5 separate regions of the Homo sapiens genome follow, and all the other regions are linked to region 5. The links come from fine-mapping of genetic effects on gene expression. A gene starts in region 5. Each other region holds a variant in brackets. All regions are shown on one strand. Distances are from middle to middle.

Region 1 (5,102 bases), 48 kb after region 5:
GTAGGAATGTGAGCCTCTGTCTTTTGTAGCACAACAGGCATTTGCCCTACAGTGCAAGGGACCTGGAGAGGGATTGATCTAGATTAGAGGTTTCTATGGATTCGATTAAGCTTGGGATGTGGCATGCATTAACATGCTGCTAGTGTCTCAAAAGATTTTACTTATCCTCTCTGCCTGTGAAATTTTCGGTTAGATGGAATCCTGCCATCCCAATACAGAACTGCATTTTATTATAGAAACAGTATTGTTCATATTAGGTGTAGTGGCAGGGGTGCTCTCTGGTACCACATTTTGGGTAGCTTTATGGATTTAAGTCTGCTTTCATGAGCTGCTAGCCTTGAAAATCTTACTTATTACCTTTATAGAAAAATGCATTGTAAATTTAAATACTTAAACATTTGGAACATGACCAATTTAAGGTTTGGAGACTGTGTTTTTACTAGAGTAAAAGGTAATTTAAATACCTTGCTTATGCCTTCTTGTTTATTATCTTCAGGTACCAGATCAGTCTGTTTTTAAGTGATCTCTGTTGACATGGGATTAGATTCAGAACTTTCTTTGATTTCAGTGAGAAACAACCAGGGATGGAACCCTTGAAGAGCATGGAATCCTCTGTCCTTCCGGAGGGTTGTTGCAACTGACTTGTCCCCACCCCTAGTAGTTCTAGAGCTAGGTTCCTGAGGCACATCTGTATCCTTGAAGAAACACTTTTATTTTTCTTCTTAGATTCAATTCTGATATGAAACTAGCAGACTCATTTTAATCTACTTTTTTTTTTTTTTTTTTTTTTTTTTTTGTAACAGGGTCTCGCCCTGTCTCCCAGGCTGGAGTGCAGTGGTGCAATCACTGAAGTCTTGACTTCCAGGCTCAAGTGATCCTCTTACCTCAGCCTACCGAGTAGCTGGAACTACAGGCTTGTGCCACTATGCCCAGCTAGTTTTTAAACTTTTTTTTTTTAGAGAGACAGAGGTCTCACTATGTTGCCCAGGCTGGTCTTGAACTCCTGGGCTCAAGCAATCCTCCTTCCTAGGCCTCCCAAAATGCTGGGAATACAGGCATGAGCTGCTATGCCTGGTCTTAATCTACTTTTGTCTGCAGAGGTTAACTTTGTGTTGCAGACAGTAAGTAGGTCCAGTTATAGAAGCAAGTACCTTCAAGGGATGGAGGATGAGGTGATAGCATCCTAGAAAAGAAAAAATGAGGCCAGGCGAGGTGGCTCACACCTGTAATCCCAGCACTTTGGGAGGCTGAGGTGGGCGGATCACCTGAGATCAGGAGTTTGAGACCAGCCTGGCCAACATGGTGAGACCCCATTTCTACCAAAAAATACAAAAATTAGCCAGGTGTGCTGGGCGCAGTTGCTCATACCTGTAATCCCAGCACTTTGGGAGGCCGAGGCAGGCGGATCACAAGGTCAGGAGATCGAGACCATCCTGGCTAACACAGTGAAACCCTGTCTCTACTAAAAATACAAAAAATTAGCTGGGTGTGGTGGCACACGCCTGTAGTCCCAGCTACTCGGGAGGCTGAGGCAGGAGAATTGCTTGAACCCGGGAGGCGGATGTTGCAGTGAGCCGAGATCGCACCACTGCACTCCAGCCTGGGCCACAGAGCGAGACTCCGTCTCAAAAAAAAAAGAAAAAAAATTAGCCGGGTGTGGTGGCATGTGGCCTGTAGTCCCAGCTACTGGGGAGGTTAAGGCTGTAGGATCGCTTGAATCTGGGAGGTGGAGGTTGCAATGAGCCGAGATCATGCCACTGTATTCCATCCTGGGCGACAGAGTGAGACCATGTCTCAAGAAAAAAAAAAAATAAAGAGACACAGATGTCCAGAGGTGTTGGGGGAGAGTGGAGAGACTCGATAACAGGTTAGATTGTCTTTAGAGGAATTGACATTTTGACTACAGTACTCATTCCTACTCTTGACTATTTTCAGGGGTT[C/G]CAAGAGAAAAATTTAAATAGGACAGAGCTAAAAACACCGACTTTCACTCACTAAAATGTTGTCATAAATTTATGTATCTTGATCTTGGAAAACATCAGTATCTATGCCTCATTTTACCTTTTAAGATTTCAGATTTATCACCCGAAGCATTTTCTCTATTGCCTTCCCCTTATATCAAGATATCCTGTTGGTTTATTGGGGTTATCCTAATCTTTATGTCAGATGAAACTCATCCTGGTTGTAATTATTTTTAGGTTGAATTACCATTGGATTTGCCAAGTACTGAAAAATCAGTAGCACTTTTGTTTAAACTCTGTTAATAAACACTTCTGAGTGAATTTTGCTAGTGTCATTATTTCCCATGCTTGCTGAGTAGAAGGTTGAATTATTATTACTTCATAATTCATATTTGTTCAATGCACACTGTGTGAAGCTGAGTTTAGGCCTCTCGAAGACTTAGCCTCTTTCTTTCTGTTCCTGTGGTTTTGAATACCATTTACATGACTCACGTCTCAGATTTTCTTTCCCTACCAGCCTCCCTGTGTTGGTTTGTGACTTTATCTGTCAGTGTTCTCTCAGGTATTTACTTAGATTTCTGCAGGCATCCTCAAGGTCAGCGCATCAGCCAACTTCTGTTGTTTAACAGAACCCTTCTTTGTGCCCTGACTCTATCTCCAGTTCTTTAGGTACATGAGTTCAGTGTTGATTCTTGACTGCTTGCTCCCACACCCATGCTTGGCAGCCTCCAACTTTCTTAAGTCCCATCTATCTCCAATCAGAGAAATGTTAGCCATCTTTCATGGTCAACTTCATATTCAGTGGACAAGGTCTGAACTGACTAGCAGGACTAACACGGGCAGCTGTTCGCTCATCCATTGCTCACTTACACTTGAGTCATTTTGCTTACCAAAGGTCAGTTGTGATGTTTCCAGATCTCTTTATGCCAGTAAACTGGTACTGTAATTATGTAATTTGATTAAATAATATACAGATTAAATTATGAGGGAGAAAAGAAAATTATTCTGGCTGTGCATGGTGGCTCACGCCTGTAATCCTAGGACTTTGGGAGGCCGGGGTAGGCAGATTGCCTGAGCTCAGGAGTTCAAGACCAGCCTGGGCAACATGGTAAAACCTCGTCTCTACTAAAAATACAAAAAATAAGCTGGGCGTGGTGGCGGGCGCCTGTAGTCCCAGCTACTCAGGAGGCTGAGGCAAGAGAATCGCTTGAGCCTGGGAGACAGAGGCTGCAGTGAGCCGAGATCGTGCCACTGCACTCCAGCTGGGCAACAGAGTGAGACTGTTTCCAAAAAAAAAAAGAAAAGAAAATTACTCTGTGAAAAGTAAGAGGAATGCTTTGGAAGGACAAGTACTTTAAAAAGGAAATGAAGCTGAATTAGGTTTGGGCAAGATAACTATGGAAGAGTAGAGGTGGAAGGATCTTAAAAATCTAGGATTCTGTACTTACTGTTTCACAGCAGTTTGAGTTCTAACTTTAAGAAACTGGAAATTGTAGATGATGCATTCTGGGTGAGTTTTTTGCAATAATGGCAAAAAACTCTAATCAGCAGAAGAGATCCTTCTAGGTTGGGCACATTGGCTCACACCTGTAATCCCAATGCTTTGGAAGGCTGAGGCGGGAGGATCCCTTGAGCTCAGGAGTTCAAGACCAGCCTGAGCAATATAGCAAGACCTCATCTCTACTTAGAAATTAAAAAAAAAAAGAAAAAAAGCTGGGCATGGTGGCACATGCCTATAGGCCCAGCTACTCATGAGACTGAGGCAGGAGGATTGCTGGAGCCCAGGAGTTCAAGGCTGCAGTGAGCTATTATCATGGCACTGCACTCCAGCCTGGGTGACAGAGCAAGACCCTGTCTCTAAAAAAAGAAAGAAAGAAAGAAGGAAGGAAGGAAAGAAGGAAGGAAGGAAAGAAAAAAGTAAAGAAAGAAAGAGAGAGAGAGAGAAAGAAAGAAAGAAAGAAAGAAAGAAAGAAAGAAAGAAAGAAAGAAAGAAAGAAAGAAAGAGAAAGAAAGAAAGAGGGTTTTTTGGCCCTAGCCAAAAGTTCAGTGGCTCTCAAAGTTTTGTTGTTTATAACAATGATGGTAGGCTTGAACATTCACGGGAAAAGTCACAGTAAAAGTCAGATTAACCATATCTTTATTACTTTAGTTTTAAATGCTATCCATGGACTCTCAGTTACTGAGGGTGAGGAAATCAGTGTTCGTATTCTACCTCCCTCCTTTTTCCCCTCTTCTCTTCCTAGTTTTTGCTAGCTGGAGTTTTATACATCATCAAAGCATATAGTATTGACGATCTGTTGTTACCCTAATCCTATTTTAGTCTTAGACCTACAGTTAAGTAGTTTTCAGTGCTCACCGTAAGTTTTTGCCGTAGTTTTTTTGTTTTTGTTTTTGTTTTTGTTTCTGAGACGGAGTTTCACTCTTGTTGCCCAGGCTGGAGTGCAGTGGCACGATCTTGGCTCACTGTAACCTCCTCCTCCTGGGTTCAGGCGATTCTCCTGCCCCAGCCTCCCAAGTAGCTAGAATTACAGGCACATGCCACTTCTGCCCAGCTAACTTTTGTTTGTTTGTTTTTTTCTGAGATAGAGTCTCGCTCCATCACCCAGGCTGGAGTACAATGGTGCGATCTCAGCTCACTGCAGCCTCCACCTCCCGGGTTCAAGCAATTCTGCCTCAGCCTCCTGAGTAGCTGGGATTACAGGTGCATGCCACCACACCTGGCTAATTTTTGTATTTTTAGTAGAGACGGGGTTTCACCATGTTGGCCAGGCTGGTCTTGAACTCCTGACCTCAAATGATCCACCCACCTTGGCCTCCCAAAGTGCTGGGATTACAGGCATGAGCCACCAGGCCTGGCCCTGCCATAGTTTTTCCAGTCACCTGTTAGTTGGCACAAGTGCTTCCTTTTGTAGATTCCTTAAGAAATACTTGGCTGGGTGTAGTGGCTCATGCTTGTAATCCCAGCACTTTGGGAGGCCAAGGCGGACGGATCACCTGAGTTTGGGAGTTTGAGACCAGCCTGACCAACATGGAGAAACCCCATCTCTACGAAAAATACAAAATTAGTCAGGCGTGGTGGCACATGCCTGTAATCCCAGCTACTCAGGAGGCTGAAGCAAGAGAATCGCTTGAACCGGGGAGGCA
Region 2 (5,102 bases), 34 kb after region 5:
GGGAAATTTAACATTAATAAATATTGTTTTCCAATATATAGTTCATATTTAAGTTTCCCAATTGTCCCAGAAATGTCCTTTAGATCTTTTTTTAAATCTCAGTTTCAGTTATGAGTCAAACATTGTCTTTAGTTGTCATGTCTCTTGATTGTTTCTGGCAGGTTTTCTAACCTTATTCTCTCTTCCTTCTTGTTGATCCCACATACTGAAATTAGTTTTTCTAATGTACTTCTTAGACTAGCCTTGACTCCTTGGCCGGACACATTCAAGGCTCTCCACAATTTGTGCCCATCCTATCCTGGCTTTACTTCCGTAACTACTGGCCAGACACTTTCTGCTCTAGCCACAGTGGACCACTCCTACTTATTTTGTAGTTCCTGCCTCAACTCTCTGCCTGAATTGTCTTTTCATGTACTAAATACTGCCTGTCATTCAAGTGCTGCTCAAATCCTACCACCCTAAAGCTTGCCCTCATGGTCTAGCCTATTGTGATCTCTTTGAACCAGGTATAGTATTATTTTTATCCTTCTGTGACCTTAATTTATGTACCTTTCTATGTTTTCCCTGCTTGGTTAGACTGCCTTATCTTTGTATTCCTCACTGAATCTAGTGTGGTACCTTTTACTGACTGGGGTAATCTTCAGGTGACTGTCACTAAAGAGTTCCCAGGACTCTAGTCTCATAAGGTTGCTCATGATTTAAACTGTTGGAGGCTGGAGTAAGGTCTGATTTCATAGTCTCTGGGGTAACCATCAGCTCTCCTGGCTGTGCCATTTAGAGCCTAGGGTACTTGGTTCCCTTTTGCTTTCAGAAATCCCTAAACACAGCTCAACATTATGACTGAGCTGGGTGTTGGTGTTAATTATGGTGAATTGAATTTTGTTCAAAGAAAACTGTGTGGGTGACCTAACATTCTGATCTACCAGTATCTAATAGCAAAGCTGGATTTAGAATTCAATTGGGCTTTCAAGATTTGGTCATCAGAGTCACAATTCAATGGCTATGTCAAGGGAATTTATCCAGCGCTTTATTTTTTTTTAAATAGATTTCAATTTGCAGTGGGCCCTCTCAAGAGAATTGAAACATATGCTTCTGAATGGTGCTGAACCCAAGAAAACCTCATAGTATGGAATTTTAAATCTCTGCTAAGCATAGGCTGCTAAAATGGAAAAATGCTGAGAGTTCAAAATTAACTCGTGAGCACTAAGATGAAAGGATCATAAACAGTAATATTGGGTTTTGTTTGCCAGATGTCCCTTCTGTGAACAGAGCTTGTGATAACAAAGCTCATTAATACCTGCCACACCCTGTGACGTTGAAGCAGATGTCCTGACTGCAGGTCTCCAGGAATGGAGGGACAAGTGAGGGACAGACAGTTTGTGTTTTTGATGATGAAAGAGGAGCTATTTGGTCTGGAAGAATAAGGTATTCTGTTTGAGTTTTAGTTCTTGTAAAAGGTGCGAGTTAACATACCTGACTATCCCTGGCTGCCTCTGTTTCTCTATCTGGATGTGCCTAAGAGAAGAAGAGAGCTGAGACCAGCCTTGTGTTCCATTGCATCTATAAAGCCCTTCTTTACTGATGCTTGATAGGTAAGAATTTTGTGGCAGAATTTTTTTTTTTGGCTTAAGTAATAAGGAAATTTATTATCTTACATACAGAAAGGCCAGTTGTAGGGCAGAGTTAAAGCGTGGTTAAGACAGACAGTTTTATCTGCAGTTTCACTTTCTGTAGTTCCAGTTATGCACAGTCAACCATGGTCCAAAAATATTAAATGGAAAATTCTAGAAATAAACAATACGTTTTAAATTGCATGCCATTCTGAGCAGCATGATGAAATGTTGCTCTGTCCTGCTCCAGGATGGGAATCATCCCCTCATCCATTGTATCCGTGCTGTGTACACTAGCTGCCCACTGCTTACTTAGTAGCCATCTTGACTGTCACAGTGTCACGGTGCTTGTGTTCAGGTAACCTTTATTTTACTTCATAATGGCCCCAAAGTGCAAGAGTAATGATGCTGGCATATTGTCATAATTGTTTTTATTATTAGTTATCGTTGTTAATCTCTTACTGTGCCTAATTTACAAATTAGACTTTATCCTAGGTATGTGTGTATAGGAAAAAATAACGCATCCACTGGGGGTCTTAGGACATATTCTAGGCAGGTAAGGGGGGACTACTGTACTTTCTGTATGTTATCTTCAATTCTTAGTGTTGGCTGTAGAATATTTTTTTCAGAGGCCAAAATCTTATTCCCTCAGGGTAACATAAAGACAGAGATCGGCTGGTCATGATGGCTCATGCCTGTAATCCCAGCACTTTGGGAGGGCCAAGGCGGACAGATCACGAGGTCAGGAGATCGAGACCAACCTGGCTAACACGGTGAAACCCTGTCTCTACTAAAAAATACAAAAAATTAGCTGGGCATGGTGGCAGGTGCCTGTAGTCCTAGCTACTCTGGAGGCTGAGGCAGGAGAATGGCATGAACCCTGGAGGCGGAGCTTGCAGTGAGCCGAGATCGCGCCACTGCACTCCAGCCTGGGTGACAGAGCGAGACTCCATCTCAGAAAAAAAAAAAAAAAAAGATCAGCAATAATGATTTCTTAAATTTCTAAAATCCCTGTAATTTGTTTAGAAAAAAAAAGAAAGAAGGGCTGGGCGCGGTGGCTCGAGCCTGTAATCTTAGCACTTTGGGAGGTCAAGGCGGGTGGCTCACCTGAGGTCAGGAGTTCGAGACCAGCCTGGCCAACGTGGTGAAACTCCGTCTCTACTAAAAATACAAAAATTACCCAGGCGTGGTGGCGTGCACCTTTAATCCCAGCTACACGGGAGACGTGAGGCAGGAGAATTGCTTGAACCTGGGAAGTGTAGGTTGCAGTGAGCCGAGGTCGCGCCACTGCACACCAGCCTGGGCGACAGAGCAGGACTCCATCTCAAAAAAAAAAAA[G/AAAAG]AAAGAAAGAAAAGGAAGGAAGGAAGGAAGGAAGGAAAGGAAGGAAAGAAGGAAGGAAGGAAAGGAAGGAAAAAGGAAGGAAGGAAAGGAAGGAAGGAAGAAAAAGAAAAGAAAAAAGGAAAGAAAGAAAAGAAAAAAAGGAAGGAAGGAGGGAAAAAGAAAGAAAGAAGGAAAGAAAGAAAGAGAAAGGAAGCAAGGAGAGAGGGAAGGAAGGAAGAAAGGAAGGAAGGAAGGACACTTGGGCTGGTTGTGGAGGCTCACGACGATAATCCCCAGCACTTTGGGAGGCTGAGGCGAGAGGATCACTTGAGCCCAGGAGTTTGAGAACAGCCTGAGCAATAAGTGAGACCCCATCTCTTTAAGTAAAAAAGAAAAAAAAAAAGAAAAAAACAAAAGCAAGGATTGTTCCAGACTATACTGAATATCTGCTGCCATATACACACTCGCTTTCCTTACTTGAACTTTGGATTGCCTCAGTGCACAATCTCATTGATTACCTGCTGCTTCAAGTTTGGTGTGTTAGTCATTCCTTATTACTGGTTAGTAGAATAACAGTGTACACAAAACAGCACAATTTGACCTTTAGAGATATTCATTTGATATGCAGCCGTTTTCAGTAAAACCTAGTGTTTGTCAAGGTTGTAGTCAGTAAACAAAGCTTATTACCCATGGTATTACTTGGATATGTTGCAGATAAAACGAATTGTATTTTGCTTTGGTTGCTGATTTATAGGCACCCTGAAAGGCTGGAATTGAGATTCAATTTTATTGTTCTTGCTATTATTCCTTATATTGCAGAAGAGGATTAGCCTACTCTAAGATAAGAAGTAGAGTTTCTCTTTCTTTCTTTCTTTCTTTCTTTCTTTCTTTCTTTCTCTCTCTCTCTCTCTCTCTCTCTCTCTCTCTTTCTTTCTTTCTTTCTTTCTTTCTTTCTTTCTTTCTTTTTCTTTCTTTTTTTGAGATGGAGTTTCGCTCTTGTTGCCCAGGTTGGAGTGCAATGACGTGATCTCGGCTCACTGCAACCTCCACCTCCTGGGTTCAAGCAATTCTCCTGCATCAGCCTCCTGCCTAGCTGGGATTATAGGCGTGCGCCACCACACCCGGCTAGTTTTGTATTTTTTTTTAGTAGAGACGGAGTTTCTCTATGTTGATCAGGCTGGTCTCAAACTCCCAACCTCAGGTGATCCGCCTGTCTCAGCCTCCCAAAGTGCTGGGATTGCAGGTGTGAGCCACCACACCCAGCAAAGCAGAATCTCTTGATTCCTAACTAAGAACCCTTTTCCAGGCTTGATTTTTGTATCAATCAAGGTAGGCTAGGTAATGCATTACTCCAAAATCCCAATGGCTTATGAGAGCAAGGTTTATTTTTTCACTCGTGCTATGTGGCCATTGTGGTGTGTCTGCTGACTGTAGTTCCTCTGAGGTCCAGGCTGATGGAAATCTCCTCAACATATGCTTCTACCTGGGCATGTGTGTGTTCCGGCTCTTGAAGTGACACATCCTCGTACACTCACATTTCAGTGATCAAAATCAGTCACATGCTCCCACCCAAGGGATGGGGAAATGATCCTATTATGTGCCCAAGAGGGAGGAGAACCTGAACTAGTTGAATATTACCAATGATGACCATGGTTTTTTCATGGATTTTCTTAGAGGAAAAGTTAATGTTTGATTTTTATTATCACTTTGTAGAAGGGAAGCTAGAAATTTTAGTAACAGAAAAATAGAGGAGTGCTCTAATAAGAAGAAAACATGGTTGAATCTTAGGAAAGGTATCCCACATGGCAGCTTTTCAGTTTCTCTGATTATTGGGCATTTATATCTTCTATACTTCCCAAATGAATTTAAGATGACTTAAAATAAAATTTCTTAACAGAATAAATGGTTTTTATATGTGGGAGGCGAGTGCCTCCCTCCTTAGAGGCTTTCTGCAAATCATTTGTCTTTACCTTGGCTCTCTGACCTTGATGAAGTACTGATGTCTGAGAGTGTTTTTGTCTTTTCTCTGATTACCAAACAACAATCATTTATTAAGCATTCATTAGGAAAAAGACACTGCGCTAAATATAGAGATACAAAGATATAAAACTCAAATTTTCTACCTGTAAGAAGCTCATAAACTAGGCACGGTGGCTCACACCTGTAATCCCAGCA
Region 3 (5,102 bases), 27 kb after region 5:
AGCCAGGCGTGATGGTGCACGCTTGTAATCCCAGCTATTCAGGAGAATCGCTTGAACCCGGGAGGCGGAGGTTGCAGTGAGCCGAGGTCGCGCCACTGCTCTCCAGCCTGGGCAACAGAGCGAGACTGTGTCTCAAAAAAAAAAAAACAACCAAATTGTTAAATACAAGGTGTTACTTTCGAAGTTACCACCTAGTGTGCAAAGTGGGTTCTTTGAAGATGCCACCTGTTGCTCACCAGGCTGCAAATGAATTTCTTAACATCTCAGGTGTAGATTCAGGGATTCAAGGATAGATTTTACTAGGAAAGGGGGAGTTTTCTTTTTTTTTTTTTTTTTTTATTGATAATTCTTGGGTGTTTCTCACAGAGGGGGATTTGGCAGGGTCATGGGACAATAGTGGAGGGAAGGTCAGCAGATAAACAAGTGAACAAAGGTCTCTGGTTTTCCTAGGCAGAGGACCCTGCGGCCTTCCGCAGTGTTTGTGTCCCTGATTACTTGAGATTAGGGATTGGTGATGACTCTTAACGCGCATGCTGCCTTCAAGCATCTGTTTAACAAAGCACATCTTGCACCGCCCTTAATCCATTTAACCCTGAGTGGACACAGCACATGTTTCAGAGAGCACAGGGTTGGGGGTAAGGTCACAGATCAACAGGATCCCAAGGCAGAAGAATTTTTCTTAGTGCAGAACAAAATGAAAAGTCTCCCATGTCTACTTCTTTCTACACAGACACGGCAACCATCCGATTTCTCAATCTTTTCCCCACCTTTCCCGCCTTTCTGTTCCACAAAGCCGCCATTGTCATCCTGACCCGTTCTCAATGAGCTGTTGGGCACACCTCCCAGACGGGGTGGTGGCCGGGCAGAGGGGCTCCTCACTTCCCAGTAGGGGCGGCCAGGCAGAGGCGCCCCTCACCTCCCGGACGGGGCGGCTGGCCGGGCAGGGGGCTGACCCCCCCACCTCCCTCCCGGACGGGGCGGCTGGCCGGGCAGAGGGGCTCCTCACTTCCCAGTAGGGGCGGCCGGGCAGAGGCGCCCCTCACCTCCCGGACGGGGCAGCTGGCCGGGCAGGGGGCTGACCCCCCCACCTCCCTCCCGGACGGGGCGGCTGGCCGGGCAGAGGGGCTCCTCACTTCCCAGTAGGGGCGGCCGGGCAGAGGCGCCCCTCACCTCCCAGACGGGGCGGCTGGCCGGGCGGAGGGCTGACCCCCCCACCTCCCTCCCGGACCGGGCGGCTGGCCGGGCAGAGGGGCTCCTCACTTCCCAGTAGGGGCGGCCGGGCAGAGGCGCCCCTCACCTCCCAGACGGGGCGGCTGGCCGGGTGGAGGGCTGACCCCCCCACCTCCCTCCCGGACGGGGCGGCTGGCCGGGCGGGGGGCTGACCCCCCCACCTCCCTCCCGGACCGGGCGGCTGGCCGGGCAGAGGGGCTCCTCACTTCCCAGTAGGGGTGGCCGGGCAGAGGCGCCCCTCACCTCCCAGACGGGGCGGCTGGCCGGGCGGAGGGCTGACCCCCCCACCTCCCTCCCGGACAGGGCGGCTGGCCGGGCGGGGGGCTGACCCCTCCACCTCCCTCCCGGACGGGGCGGCTGGCCGGGCAGAGGGGCTCCTCACTTCCCAGTAGGGGCGGCCGGGCAGAGGCGCCCCTCACCTCCCAGACGGGGCGGCTGGCCGGGCGGAGGGCTGACCCCCCCACCTCCCTCCCGGACGGGGCAGCTGGCCAGGCGGGGGGCTGACCCCCCCACCTCCCTCCCGGACGGGGCGGCTGGCCGGGTGGGGGGGCTGACCCCCCCATCTCCCTCCCGGACGGGGTGGCTGGCCAGGCTGAGGGGCTCCTCACTTCCCAGTAGGGGCGGCCGGGCAGAGGCGCCCCTCACCTCCTGGACGGGGCGGCTGGCCGGGCGGGGGGCTGACCCCCCCACCTCCCTCCCGGATGGCACGGCTGGCCGGATGGGGCGGCTGGCCGGGTGGGGGGCTGACCCCCCCCACCTCCCTCCCGGACGGGGTGGCTGCCGGGCGGAGCCGCTCCTCACTTCCCAGATGGGGTGGCTGCCGGGCGGAGAGGCTCCTCACTTCTCAGACGGGGCAGCTGCCGGGCGGAGGGGCTCCTCACTTCTCATACGGGGTGGTTGCCAGGCAGAGGGTCTCCTCACTTCTCAGACAGGGCGGCCGGGCAGAGACGCTCCT[T/C]ACCTCCCAGACGGGGTCTCGGCCGGGCAGAGGCGCTCCTCACAACCCAGATGGGGCGGCGGGGCAGAGGCGCTCCCCACATCTCAGACGATGGGCGGCCGGGCAGAGACGCTCCTCACTTCCTAGATGTGATGGCGGCTGGGAAGAGGCGCTCCTCACTTCCTAGATGGGATGGCGGCCGGGCGCAGACGCTCCTCACTTTCCAGACTGGGCAGCCAGGCAGAGGGGCTCCTCACATCCCAGACGATGGGCGGCCAGGCAGAGACACTCCTCACTTCCCAGACCGGGTGGCGGCCGGGCAGAGGCTGCAATCTCGGCACTTTGGGAGGCCAAGGCAGGCGGCTGGGAGGTGTAGGTTGTAGTGAGCTGAGATCACGCCACTGCACTCCAGCCTGGGCACCATTGAGCACTGAGTGAACGAGACTCCGTCTGCAATCCCGGCACCTCGGGAGGCCAAGGCTGGCGGATCACTCGCGGTTAGGGGCTGGAGACCGGCCCGGCCAACACAGCGAAACCCCGTCTCCACCAAAACCAGTCAGGCGTGGCGGCGCGTGCCTGCAATCGCAGGCACTCGGCAGGCTGAGGCAGGAGAATCAGGCAGGGAGGTTGCAGTGAGCCGAGATGGCAGTAGTACAGTCCAGCTTCGGCTCCGCATGAGAGGGAGACCGTGGGGAGAGGGAGAGGGAGAGGGAGAGGGGGAGGGGGAGGGGTAGGGGGAGAGGGAGAGGGAGAGGGAGAGGGGAAAAGGGGGAGTTTTCAAAGCAAGAGAAGAGCCCATGGAGAGGTGTATTGAGGTGTCTCTGCTGGAATGACTCCCATCACCCACCTCCTCCAATGCTGTCTTTTTTATCAGGCACCTGTGAGAGTAGCTTTGCTAGTGGAGAGATAGGCAGAATGCTTAGACACCACGAAATCTGTATTTGTGTGCCAGCTGCTTATAGATGTTGTCTAGGGGCCGGGTGCGGTGGCTAACGCCTATAATCCCAGCACTTTGGGAGGCCTGAGGTCGGGAGTTCGAGACCAGCCTAACCAACATGGAGAAACCCCGTCTCTACTAAAAATGCAAAATTAGCTGGGCTTGGTGGTGCATGCCTATAATTCCAGCTACTCAGGAGGCTGAGACAGGAGAATCACTTGAACCCAGGAGGCAGAGGTTGCAGGGAGCCGAGATCATGCCATTGCACTTCAGCCTGGGCAACAAGAGCAAAACTCCATTTCAAAAAAAAAAAAAAAGGAAGTTGTCTGGGAATGCCAGCTGCCCAACACCTGGAAACTTAGGGACCTGTGGGATAATACACACCTGGAGAAGACAGCTGTAGGTGCTGTGGGAAGTTGTGCTTGGGTGCAGCCCCTCTCACTGGGAGAAGGGGTAGCCTCCCAACCCCCTAGTCTAAGCTAGTTCATTGTCTAGGCAACGTGGAGTATACCTCCATGGTGACTTTTTTTTTTTTTTTTTTTTGAGACGGAGTCTCGCTCTGTTGCCCAGGCTGGAGTGCAGTTGTGTGATCTCGGCTCACTGCAACCTCTGCTTCCCGTGTTCAAGTGATTCTCCTGTCTCAGCCTCCGGAGTAGCTGGGACTACAGGTGCCTGCCACCATGCCCGGCTAATTTTTGTATTTTTAGTAGAGACAGGGTTTCATCATATCTGTCAGGCTGGTCTCCAACTCCTGACCTCAGGTGATCCACCCACCTCAGTCTCCCAAAGTGCTGGAATTACAGGCGTGAGTGAGCCACCGCGCCCAGCCTCCAAGGTGACTTTGAAAGTCAACATTTGTTGTTTTGTGTTTTACCTTCTTTGCTCCGTGTTATTTGTAAGAATCACCCATTTTGTTACATGTGGCCTTAGGAAGTTTAATTTCATTGCTGCATAGGATTTCATTATATGAATTTATCCATTCTATGACTGATGGAATTAGATTGTTTTGAGTTTGGAGCTTTTATGAAATATGTTGTCATGAATATTCTTGAAAATGGATGCTATTGTACATTTTTGTACATTTTCTTGAAACATCTATTTCTCTTAACAGTGCAATTCCTGGGTCATAGGTGAGGCCTCTAGAAGGAAGAAACAGGCCTCTAGAAGGAAGCACAAAAGCACCAGCAGGGCTGCAGCACTGGCAAAAGAAGTCTGAGGCTCAAGGCCTCTGGACTGTAGACCATAGTATCTGCCACTTTGTTAGATAATGCCAGAGTGATTGTATCCATTTATACTTCTACCAATCGGGGGTGAGTGTTCCCAGTGCTCTGTATGCTCACCAAAGGTTTATATTCTCAGTGTGGTAATCATTAGAACTGTTAACTAAATATTTACAGTTCTTTCCCCTTCGAGAAACATGGTAAAATTATACTAATATGCCTTCCTGAAGTTAGGTGTAGCCATGTGACTTGCTTTAGCTAATGAAGTGTGAGTGGAAGTGCCATGTGTCACTTCTAGGCAAAACTTAGGAGCCAGTGCTAATATATATAATAATGGAATATATATATATATATTCCATTTGTGGAAGCATGGACACACAGCCTTCCAGGGCCTGGGTCCCTAACTGAGGATGAGGTAGAGCAGTGCTCCCCAGTGGACGCACAGTGGATGTGTGCATAGTATGAGAGAAATAAACTTGTTACTTTAAGCCATGAAATGTTAAAATTGTTACTGTGACTTAACCAAGCCTGTCCTGACTGATGGATATAGAACTTAATTTTTATCCAGCTAGTAGGTATGTACTGGCATTTCATTGTCATTCCAATTGCATTTCTTATGAAGATGAGCATCTTTTCTTGTTTATTGCCTATTAGGAGGTCCTCTCTAGTGAAATGTTTATTCAGGGCCTTTGTTCTTTCTTCTGTGAGGTTGTCTGCCTGTGATTTAAAAACGTATTTGTAAGGACCGGGCACAGTGGCTAATGCCTATAATCCCAGCACT
Region 4 (5,102 bases), 65 kb after region 5:
CAAATAGGATGCAGCAATGATTGGTACATGGGTATTAAGATCGGTAGTAGGGGCTAGTCCAAGTTTAGCAATAGCCAAACTGGAGAGCCTCTGAAGTATGAGAGTCCCAGAGGGATTTGTCAGCTCCTGGCAGACATCCTGATTTTCACCTTCCTGAGTCTACCCTACCCCAGAGGGTGCCAGTCTCACTGTGGTGATGGTTAGCCCAGTGTGTGCTGCACTCACACACCAGCACGGGGTCCGTGCTTGCAGGCTGGTGGATGCTGTCCTCTGGGTTAAGACTGTCTCCCTTCTCGGGAGCACTGGAGGGTTCTCCATCTGCGTGTTTCAGTGGAAGTTGGCAGATACGAAAACAGGCCCCTATAGGGAAGCAGTTCCATGAAAATGATTAATTCTTTCCAAAAGACTTAAAATTTTTTCCTATTTCAATTTTCCTTTCAAAAAAGGAAATACATTCATGTAGTTCAAAACTTAAGAAAACAAAAGTCTGTTCAGCAAAAGACTCCCACTCCGGTTCCCCAAACGCTGAGCCCCACCCCCCATCCCTGGTAGCAAGAAGTGTTTCCAATTTTAAGGTTAAGAAACAAAGTCCCTGGATTTGTGTTAGGGATGTCTTCCTGAGAGTGGGTTGTGTTCCGTTTGACCCTGGCGGTTGACCTCGGCCCACTAGGATCATGCCGCCCTCTCCAGGGAGGAGGGCCTCCCCATCACCCTGTACAGTGGCACCCCAGCCCTGGCACTGCCCGCCCTTGCTCAGCGTACCTTTCCCATGGCACTCTGACGTACTGGATGTTTGGTTTCTGAAGTTACTGGCTGTTTACCCTGCCGGGATGTAAGCCCCTCCAGGGCAGGGGCTTGTCTCGTGTTCAGTGCTGCATCCCAGCTGCTGGGCACGGTACCTGGTCCATGGCGTTCAATAAATAACTGTTGGATGAGTGAACGGTTGAGGCAAATGGCAGTTCATTCTAACAGTCTCAGCATGTGCTCTCCAGGTCCCTGTGCTCAGCACTTGGGAAGGAGAACCAGAATAGTGGTATTGGAAGCAGGAAGTGGGAAGGACCCGATGATGGCTCGTGGAGGCTGAGGGAGAGGAGAATGGCAGAGCTGGTGTTGGCAGGTGGAGCCCGTGTAACGAGGAGGCGCAAGGATGGGGCTCTCGAGAGAGGGAGGGGGTTTGGGAGGGTGGCAATCAGGAGTTTGGATGTGGAACGCATTCGGTTGGGGTTGTCCAAGCATCTCTGGGGGCAGATGTCCACCAGCCAGCTGGGAAACTGAGTGGGCAGGAGAGGAAATGAGTCTCCACCCAGAGATGATGATTGGAGGTGTGGGGGTGAGCGCTGTGGCCGAGGGACAAGAGGGTTGAGGACTGAGCCTGTGGGCAGGGGAGAGAGGAGCATCTGGACAGCGGGCGACTTCAAGTCAAGGAAGCACTTTCAGTGGGGAGGGGGACCAGGAAGAGACGGCCTCTCTCAGGCTTCCATTGGCCCCAGCCCAGCCCCCCGAGTGAGAACTGTGAAGAGATGGCTCTAGCCTCATGGTGGGGCAGGTCCAAACTTAGTGTGGGTCACAGTCCAGCTCTGCAATGTGCAGTCTGAACCTTCGGAAGATTCAGTTTGCTCATCTGAAAAAGAGGGTAATGATTCCTGCCTTGTAGGTTACTGTGTGGATTCAGTGAATCACTGATGCGGACGATGAAGGACTCACTCAGTCAACATTGGCTACTCTTATCACTGAGACTTGCAGAGGGAATGGGAGTTGAGGAGGTGGATGGAATAAGTTCGATGATGCTGGGAAGGAGAAAGAGCTCAGGTCCTGGCAGAAGGGGAAGAGGAAATGAGGGCAGCAGAAACCAAAGTGGGCCTTAAAGGAGGGCACTGCACGGGGATGGTGATGCACACTGGCCCTGGCCTGGCCTGTCAGTGGGGTCCCACACCCGTATCCAGAGGCACAGCTAGATAAAATGGTTGAGGAGGTGGTGGGGTCTGCAGAAAGTGAATCTTAAGATGGGGAGCGTCTGAAGACATAGAAGAGCAACTAGCAACTGGCAGGACCCACGGTATGGGGGTCAGAGGGGAGAGGAGCCTGGAACTTCCTTTCCCTGGAGTCAGGAGGGACATCTGGCAGTCCCAGCAAGCACGGCGGGAGCTCGAATCTGGGGACCAGTGAGAGGGCCTCTGACCTCGCAGGCCTGGATGAGAGTTGGGGCCCCTGCAGGGACTCCACGCTTCCCATGAGAAGTGGGATCTTTGAGCCTTCTCAAGAGCAAACCTTACATTTTAGTACAGCTCTGACAGCCTGGCCTCCC[G/A]GGAGCACTTGGAAACAGGGGTGTCCCCTCCCCCAGCCTCCAAGGACCAGGCTGCAATTTCAGGAGAGACAAGCTGGAGGTTGCCTTCTGCATTGCTGAGAATGAACGCCCTTTGCACACTGTGAAAGAAAGGCTAAGCTAAAATTGATAGACAGGAGTTCCAGGTAGTTTTCACAAATGAGTCCCCTGGTTCCGCAGAATGAGGTGATGCTCAAAATATTTACCAACCAGCATGGCTCAGGCATTGACCAATCAGGATGGAGGTAGCTGATTTAGGGGTTGGGGGTTACTGGTGTCACATGTGGGCTCTGCCGCCAGGATCCCTTCCTCTTCCTTCCGCCGGGATCCCTTCCTCTTCCTTCCAAGGCAACATTCCTTCCGAGGCAACAGCCACATCTCAGGGCTGCTGCAGTCTGCTCCTTTGCTTGCCTGGGAGAGTCAGAGATGAGGCCTGTGGGTTGTGTGTGTGGCTGCATGGGTCAGCGTGCCTCCTCCCACTTGGGCACTGTGGTGGGAGGGACAAGTCATCTCATACTTCATCTCTCTGGACACTCCCAGGCTAGCACTGAAACTGGAGGCCAAAGGACAGCCCCAAACCCAGGGCACTTTGTGCTGCCAAAGATCACCACCTTTGCCCTAGGCAACCTGGAACTGAAGGTTTTCTCCGGCCTCTTGGTCCGGGGCACTTGACATGAATGCCCTTTCCCTGACCCCTGTCCAGCCCTGAGTGGCTCCCCAGCTGGGTGTGGGCTGGCTAGAGGGAGCTGCGGACCGAAGCCAGCAGCACCGAGGCAAGCCAGGATTTAAACTGTCAACTGCCGAGCCAGCTCTACTGGAACTTCCTTTGTGTGGCTGGACCTGCTCCCACAACACCCGTCAGTTCACGTAGAGGGAGCTCCCGCAGGACTCAGCTCCTTCGGGGTGTTTTTTGCTGAGATTCCCCTTCTGAGTTCCCGGCCTCTAGCTGCCTCTTCTCCACCATTTGGGCCCTGCCTCAGCCCTAGAAACTGTCAAGCAGCCCAGTAGCTGTTTAAAGTACATAATGATATTACAGGGTTGGAAGGAAATCCTTGGGTCCAGACCCTGTGTCAACCAGGTGAGGGTTACGGTGACACTACCTGGCCTTGCAGCCTGAGCCTGGTACAGGTTGACACCCTGAAGCAAGTCCTCCTTGTCAGGTCCCGCCCAAGCCTTCTTGTCAGCCCAACTGGCTCAGCCCCAGCCCAGCTCTGCCCAACTGCCCTGGGCTCCCCTGCCCTGGAGAGGCCAAAGGCCACCCTTTCTCTGGGTGTCACAGCTCCCCTTTGCTCTGGGCCCACAGTCCCCGGCATCCCCAGCCCCTGTCTTCTCATCCCTGACACGAGTTTCCCTCCCTGAGAACTCACTGCCCCCCAGCACCAGATCCTGCACGATAGTCAGTGGTCCTGGAGCCCACATGTCACCACTGCATCCTCCACCCCAGTGTCCCTGCCCGGACACCACCACAACCCCTCAGGCCCCTCAGCAGTGTCTCTGCCTCCCCCTCTGTCTCCTTGTGGCTCATGTCATCGCTCCACCGCAGAGTGAACCACCTCATGCATTCATCAGACCCCCACTGCCCTGCAGCCTTTAAAGCCTCCCAAAAGCTTCCCACCAGCCTCAAAGAAACCCAAGGCCCTGCTTAGCTGCCCCCACCCACCCCACATCCTCATCTTGCACCCCTGCCTGGCTCCCTCCTTCCAGCCACACTGGCCTTTATGCTTCTCAAACCTGCCGGGCTCATTCCCACGCAGGGCCTTTGTCTTGCCATCCCCTCTGCCTCTGTCTTCAGGTCCCCCTTGCTCCTCACTTCTCTCAGCCTTCACCTGCAGAGGACTTCCCGGTCCCACCTGGCTGAAGCAGCCACTTCTCCCCTCACTCCCCATCCCTCACCCCACTTTGTCCTCTGTGGCGCTTGTCACCCGATATGACAGTGTGTGCCATGTCGACTCTCTTTTTCACTGTTGTTTTGCTGCTGCCTTGCTGGTGCCTGGGACAGTGCCTGACCCATATTCAGCTGTCAGTAAGTACGAGATTGCTCAACAAATCAATGAATGCATTCAACTCCTTCCATTTCCCTCTCAACATGCGTGAAGCTCCACGCTCTACTCAGCCTTGAGGGCAGGAGGCACTGTGTGGTGGGGGCACAGGCCCAGCTTCCTGTCTCACTGTGTGACCCTGAGCCAGTCCCTTATCTGCCCACTTCCAGGTGGTCAGAATGGTGTGTGAGAGGGCATTTTACTATGATACATAGTCCTAAAGCCCTGAAGGAGACGTGAACTTGGTTTGATCCTGCCTCTGCCACTTCCAACTGTGTGACCTTGGGCAACACACCTAACCTCTCTCTGTTGTGTTTCCTCAGCTGGGAAATGGGAACACAGCGGCTCCCTTGCACCAGTCAGGATTCCCAGTGCAAAGAGAACCAACCCAGAAAGGCACTCGCTGAAGGGCTGTGGGGAAGCTCTCACAGGCTCAAAGGGAAGGCGGAAAGCCTAGACTGAAACTAGCCAGGCTGCAGACAAAACCAAAAGTCCACCTGGCATGGTGGCTCACACCTGTAATCCCAGCACTTTGGGAGGCCAAGGTGGGCAGATCACGAGGTCAGGAGTTCAAGACCAGCCTAACCAACATGGTGAAACCCCGTCTCTACTAAAAATACAAAAAAAAAAAAAAAATTAGCCGGGCGTGGTGGCACATGCCTGTAATCCCAGCTACTTGGGAGGCTGAGGCAGGAGAATCGCTTGAACCTGGGAGGTGGAGGTTGCGGTGAGCTGAGATC
Region 5 (5,102 bases):
AAGCTAATACAGATTTTTGGATCTTATTCAATTTCGCTTTCTTCTGTTTAGGTTATTATCTGGTTTTATACCTAACTACTTATTTTCAAATTGCTAACCAGTTATCCTAATAGTATTTACTGAATTCCTTCCCACTCCTACATCACATATTAAAATTATTTTATGCCTAAATTATTTATAATATTTCAGTTATTCTTCCTATAATTACAATTTGAACCATCAAAGTAGGTTTTCATAGTTGGCAGAGCTAGTTCTTCTTCATAATTCTGTTTCAGAATTTTCTTTGATATTCTTCCTCAACATTTTAAACATTTTGTCAAGTTTCAGTGCAACTGACTTTTGGTTTTTATTTATTTAAAAACTGGGCCATGCCGGGCGCAGTGGCTCACGCCTGTAATCCCAGCACTTCGGGAGACTGAGATGGGTGAATCACTTGAGGTCAGGAGTTTGAGACCAGACTGGCCAATGTGGTGAAACCCCATCTCTACTAAAAATACAAAAATTTGCTGGGCATGGTGGCATGTGCCTGTAATCCCAGCTACTGGGGAGGCTGAAGCAGGAGAATTGTTTGAACCCGGGAGACGGAGGTTGCAGTGAGCCAAGATTGTGCCACTGCACTCCAGCCTGGGCAACAGAGTGAGACTCCATCTCAAACAAACAAACAAACAAACAAACAAAAAACTGGACTAGGCGTGGTGGCGGTTTGGGAGACTGAGGCTGGAGGATTGCCTGAGGCCAGCAGTTTGAGGTTACAGTGAGGTATGACTGTGCCACTGCACTCCAACCTGGGTAAGACCCTATCTCTGAAAAACAAACAAGCAAACCCCAGAACTCTGGCTGCAAAAGTAGTACATATTTCTTTGAAGGAAAAAAAGGAAAACTTGATAATCCTACCACCCAAAGATGTTTTTAAATCACTTATGTGGTACTCAGTTATGTGCCATGCACTGTCCAAGTGCTTACAAATATTATACTAACTCCCTTTGTGTTTATAACAACTGTCTGAAGTCAGTAGACTCATTTTCCAGTTTTCCAGTTTAGGAAACTGATATTACACCTTTTCTACAGATGGGGAAACTTGCCCAGGGTGCCCAGGCAGTCCGCAGAACCATGCTTTGAATCAGGGCAGTGTGGTTCCAGGGTCCTGTACAGATCAAACACCCTGACTCTGCCATTCCATCAGATACATGATTCATATTTTGGTGTATTTGCCTCCAATCTTGAGCAAAGTGGGTTGTCCCTGTACATACTTTGTGTAATCTTTTAGCTTAACAGGTGTCATGAACACTTCCGTATCATAAATCTTTCCCAGCATGATTTTTATTATCTATTTAATATTTCTCATATTCAATGTAGAACAATGCACTTAACCAATTTCTCATTTTTGTAATAATTTTCTTCCCATTTTCCCCTGTAATAACACTGCTGAGATATATATTTTTTTCTTCTTTTTTTTACTGTTCTGAAGATACTCTGGCAGAAATGTATGTTCCTCAGGCTAAATCTTTTCACACATCCACAATCATTTTATCATAAATTCTAGAGCTGGAAACGCTGAGTCTAATGTTTTATATATATATATATATATGTTATATATCTGTCACCCAGGCTGGAGTGCAGTGTGGTGTGATCTCAGCTCACTGCAACCTCCGCCTCCCGGGTTCAAGCCATTCTCCTGCCTCAGTCTCCCAAGTATCTGGGACTACAGGCGCGCGCCACCACAACCGGCTAATTTTTGTAATTTTAGTAGAGGCGGGGTTTCACCTTGTTGGCCAGGCTGGTCTCGAACTGCTGACCTCAAGTGAGCCGCCCGCCTCGGCCTCCCAAAGTGCTGGGATTACAGGCGTGAGCCACCGCGCCCGGACTGTTATATATTTTAAAGGCTTCTGATCCATATCGCCAAACAGTCCTCTGGATCGATTTGCATCTGTATCCGCTGCTCCATCTGCAGTATACGGACATGCTCCACTTCACCCACACTGGGTCATTAAAAGAACAAACAAAAATAAGAACTTGATCGATTTGGGATTTTAAATGGAAATGCACTAAAAATTCCTTAATTCCACCATTCACCGTCTACCATAGAGGAACAGCCCATCTGCACGGAGAGACAGCTACGTAATTCACTGCAGCATTATAATACTGAAAAATTAAAATGAACGAAATGTTCCATAACCGACGAACGGCCGAATGACCGGCGTCTCCACTCCGCGGAACGTTCTGCGAGCGCTAAGGGGATGGCGGGAGTGCATGATTTGGAGCGGGCGGTGAGAAAAGCAAGCTCCCGCCGCCTCTCCGTTTTGGCAACCCGGCTGACGGTCGTTTCGGCTTCTGGGGCCAGCCGTCGGTCTGGGCGAGGGACATAGATCCGGATTCGCATCCTGACTGGCCAACCAACGCTGGCCGAGGTGACCACTCTCCTCGGCATCCGCACCTGCCCTCCAAGGCGTCAGAGAGGCCGGACCCTTGGGTGCTAGGGCTCGTGAGCGCCGGGGCCAAGTTTCCGAGTGCCGCTCTCAGCAGCGCACCAACCGGAAGTGATCGTGTTGTGGCGGAAGGAGGAGCTTTCTGGGAGTAGCCGGTGCTGAGAGAACCGTGGCTGGCAAAGATGATTCAGGCGATTCTGGTTTTCAACAACCATGGGAAGCCACGGCTAGTCCGCTTCTACCAGCGTTTCGTGAGTGCGGCCCGGCTTCACCACGCCCCTTCAGGGCGCCCACTATGTCTTCCCTCCTCTTTGGCCTCTCGGCGCCCGGGGGCACCGCTCTTTGGTCACCTGGGGCTCCTGCACCGAGCATGACCCTCGCCCTACTTAAGCATTTAATCTAGGCGCAGGCTGGTGCCAGGCCTTCTGTCTCCCGCCCTACTGCCCCGCTCTCGCTGACCCTTTTCTTGATCCTGGCATTTCTGTGCCATTTTGTGACATTTTCCCGTGGGTCTCTGGGAACGAGATAGAAGCGACAGTGGGGAGTGTGCCTCGATGAGAACTTGAGTGATTGAAGTCACATTCTGTCATCTTTTTGGTTGTTGACCACAGTTTCATGAGGAAGAAATATTAAGTTTCTGAAAGTTTTTGTTATAGCCAGAACTGGAAAAGTTCTTTTTTTTTTGGAATTATTTTGCTTCAGTGTTGGCTGGGACTTTCCAGAGACTAGATACCCTTCACTCTTAGGGTTGAAGAAAATCAGTTTAAAAGTGGAAAAATGATGAGAAATTATAAATGCTGCCGCATAAGGGCTCAATAAGTGATTACGTAAATTTGAATTTTCCCAACACGTTCCTTTGCAAACACATAAACATCAGTATTTGCTTCCTGTCTTCGAAGATTATATTTCTTCATGGCAGGGTTTCAAAATGTTACATAATTGGGGGACTGGTGGAACTGAAGAGGGGAAAGAGCCAGAAAACGTGTTCAGGCTTCAGCTCCACCTTTTCTACTCTTGCGTCTGTTGACAAGTTAATAAACCCTTTTCAGACTTTTATTGTCTTTTGTCAATTAGAAATGAAAAAATAATTTTACTCCTTCATAAGATTTTTAAAGCTAGATTACATTTTATTAAGTAGATTACATCGAGGTAAAAATATGAGTATTCAGGCCGGGCGCGGTGGCTCACGCCTGTAATCCCAGCACTTTGGGAGGCCGAGGCGGGCGGATCACGAGGTCAGGAGATGGAGACCATCCTGGCTAACACGGTGAAACCCCGTCTCTACTAAAAATACAAAAAATTAGCCAAGCGCGGTGGCGGGCACCTCCAAGTCCCAGCTACTCAGGAGGCTGAGGCAGGAGAATGGCGTGAGCCCGGGAGGCGGAGCTTGCAGTGAGCCAAGATAGCGCCACTGCACTCCAGCCTGGGCGAAAGAGCGAGACTCCATCACACACACACACAAAAAAGTATATATATATATGTATGTATATGAGTATTCAGCGTAACTATTTGTATTTGCATTTGTGTGTATGCAAATTTCCCCCCTAGTTTTTTTCTAACAGGGTTACTGAGATAAAACTAACATGCCATACTGTTTACTTATTTATTTTATGTTATTTACTTATAGAGACGGGGTCTTTCTATGTTGCCCAGGCTGGTCTTGAACTCCTGGGCTCAAGCAATCCACCGGACTCAGCCTCCCAAAGTGCTGGGATTACAGGCATGAGCCACTGTGTCCGGCCCCAGTTTACTTATTTAAAGGGGACAATTCAGTGTTTTTTAGCATGTTCACAGAAGCTGTGTAACCATCACCACAATCAATTTTAGATCATTTTCATCACCCCAAAAAGAAACCTCTGCCCATTAGCAGTCACTCCCTATTTCTCCATGACTCTCCCAGCCCCAGAGAGTTTCTTTCCCTCTAAATTTGCCAGTTCCAGAATGGCAAATGGAATTTGCCTATTCCGTTGCCTATAAATGGAATCATAAATAAGTGGTTTTTTGTGTGTCTGCCATGTTTCATGTAGTATAATGTTTTCAAGATTCATCCATGTTGTAGCATGTATCTGATGTTCTTCATTTCTTTTATTGCTGAATAATATTCCATTATATGGATATGCCATATTTTGATTGTCAATTTATAAGTTGATATTTCTGCTTTTTGGCTCTTCTAATTAATGCTGCTATGAACATTCTTGTGCAAGTTTTTATGTGGACTTATGACTTCATTTCTCTTGGTTATATACCTAGGAGTAGAATTGCTGGATCATATGGTAACTGTGGTGAACATTTTGAGAAACTGCAAACTATTTGACAAATTTTCCAAGTGGCTGCACCATTTTACATTTCCATCAGCAATGTATAATGATTCCAGTTTCTTCACATCCCTGCCATTCGTTATTTATTTATTTATTTTTGGTTAAAGACATTTTAGTGGGTGTAAAGTGGTATCTCACTGTGGCTTTTTTTTTTCCCTCCGAGACTGAATCTCACTCTATCTCCCAGGCTGCAGTGGCGTGATCTCGGTTCACTGTAACCTCTGCCTCCCGGGTTCAAGTGATTCTCCTGCCTCAGTCTCCTGAGTAGCTAGGATTACAGGTGCCCACGACCATGCCTGGCTAATTTTTGTATTTTTAGTAGAGATGGGGTTTCGCTGTGTTGGCCAGGCTGGTCTCG

Alleles and levels. Positions count from the first base shown, and alleles are read on the strand shown. Sizes are in standard deviations (SD) of each study's normalised expression. Not every link is listed here.
For the expression in monocytes of the gene that starts at base 2,564 in region 5, allele G in region 1 goes with a lower level than allele C (moderate effect, 0.65 SD a copy in Fairfax 2014).
For the expression in damaged cartilage of the gene that starts at base 2,564 in region 5, AAAAG is the low allele of the variant in region 2 and G is the other (moderate effect, 0.60 SD a copy in Steinberg 2020).
In carriers of allele T in region 3, the expression in adrenal gland of the gene that starts at base 2,564 in region 5 tends to be higher than with C alone (moderate effect, 0.75 SD a copy in GTEx).

Evidence for each region. PIP is the estimated chance that this variant, and not a neighbour inherited with it, causes the effect. A credible set is the group of variants that fine-mapping cannot tell apart.
Region 1: its variant is the best candidate, but not a certain one, in a credible set for the expression of AP3S2 in monocytes (Fairfax 2014, PIP 0.73).
Region 2: its variant is the best candidate, but not a certain one, in a credible set for the expression of AP3S2 in damaged cartilage (Steinberg 2020, PIP 0.87).
Region 3: its variant is the best candidate, but not a certain one, in a credible set for the expression of AP3S2 in adrenal gland (GTEx, PIP 0.53).
Region 4: its variant is the best candidate, but not a certain one, in a credible set for the expression of AP3S2 in whole blood (INTERVAL, PIP 0.89).

What each region holds. Positions count from the first base shown.
Region 1 is chr15:89,843,070-89,848,171 of GRCh38, reverse strand. All of the region lies in intron 8 of ARPIN-AP3S2 (ARPIN-AP3S2 readthrough), which reads left to right. All of the region lies in intron 4 of AP3S2 (adaptor related protein complex 3 subunit sigma 2), which reads left to right. Among named protein-coding and RNA genes, the nearest start is that of MIR5094, 5.1 kb to the left of the region's middle. The variant C/G (reference allele first, on the strand shown) is at 1,941.
Region 2 is chr15:89,857,246-89,862,347 of GRCh38, reverse strand. All of the region lies in intron 8 of ARPIN-AP3S2 (ARPIN-AP3S2 readthrough), which reads left to right. The region is part of intron 4 of AP3S2 (adaptor related protein complex 3 subunit sigma 2); the gene reads left to right. Among named protein-coding and RNA genes, the nearest start is that of MIR5094, 9.1 kb to the right of the region's middle. The variant G/AAAAG (reference allele first, on the strand shown) is at 2,949.
Region 3 is chr15:89,864,804-89,869,905 of GRCh38, reverse strand. All of the region lies in intron 8 of ARPIN-AP3S2 (ARPIN-AP3S2 readthrough), which reads left to right. All of the region lies in intron 4 of AP3S2 (adaptor related protein complex 3 subunit sigma 2), which reads left to right. Among named protein-coding and RNA genes, the nearest start is that of MIR5094, 17 kb to the right of the region's middle. The variant T/C (reference allele first, on the strand shown) is at 2,186.
Region 4 is chr15:89,826,437-89,831,538 of GRCh38, reverse strand. ARPIN-AP3S2 (ARPIN-AP3S2 readthrough) reads left to right here. Exons shown (of 10, transcript NM_001199058.2): 10 at 1-940. It overlaps AP3S2 (adaptor related protein complex 3 subunit sigma 2), which reads left to right. Exons shown (of 6, transcript NM_005829.5): 6 at 1-940. Among named protein-coding and RNA genes, the nearest start is that of ANPEP, 14 kb to the right of the region's middle. RefSeq lists an enhancer at 3,297-4,188. The variant G/A (reference allele first, on the strand shown) is at 2,306.
Region 5 is chr15:89,891,456-89,896,557 of GRCh38, reverse strand. It overlaps AP3S2 (adaptor related protein complex 3 subunit sigma 2), which reads left to right and starts at 2,564. Exons shown (of 6, transcript NM_005829.5): 1 at 2,564-2,677. The coding sequence starts at 2,609. All of the region lies in intron 5 of ARPIN-AP3S2 (ARPIN-AP3S2 readthrough), which reads left to right. It overlaps ARPIN (actin related protein 2/3 complex inhibitor), which reads left to right. Exons shown (of 6, transcript NM_182616.4): 6 at 1-1,552. RefSeq lists enhancers at 1,282-2,029, 2,384-2,533, 3,526-4,275.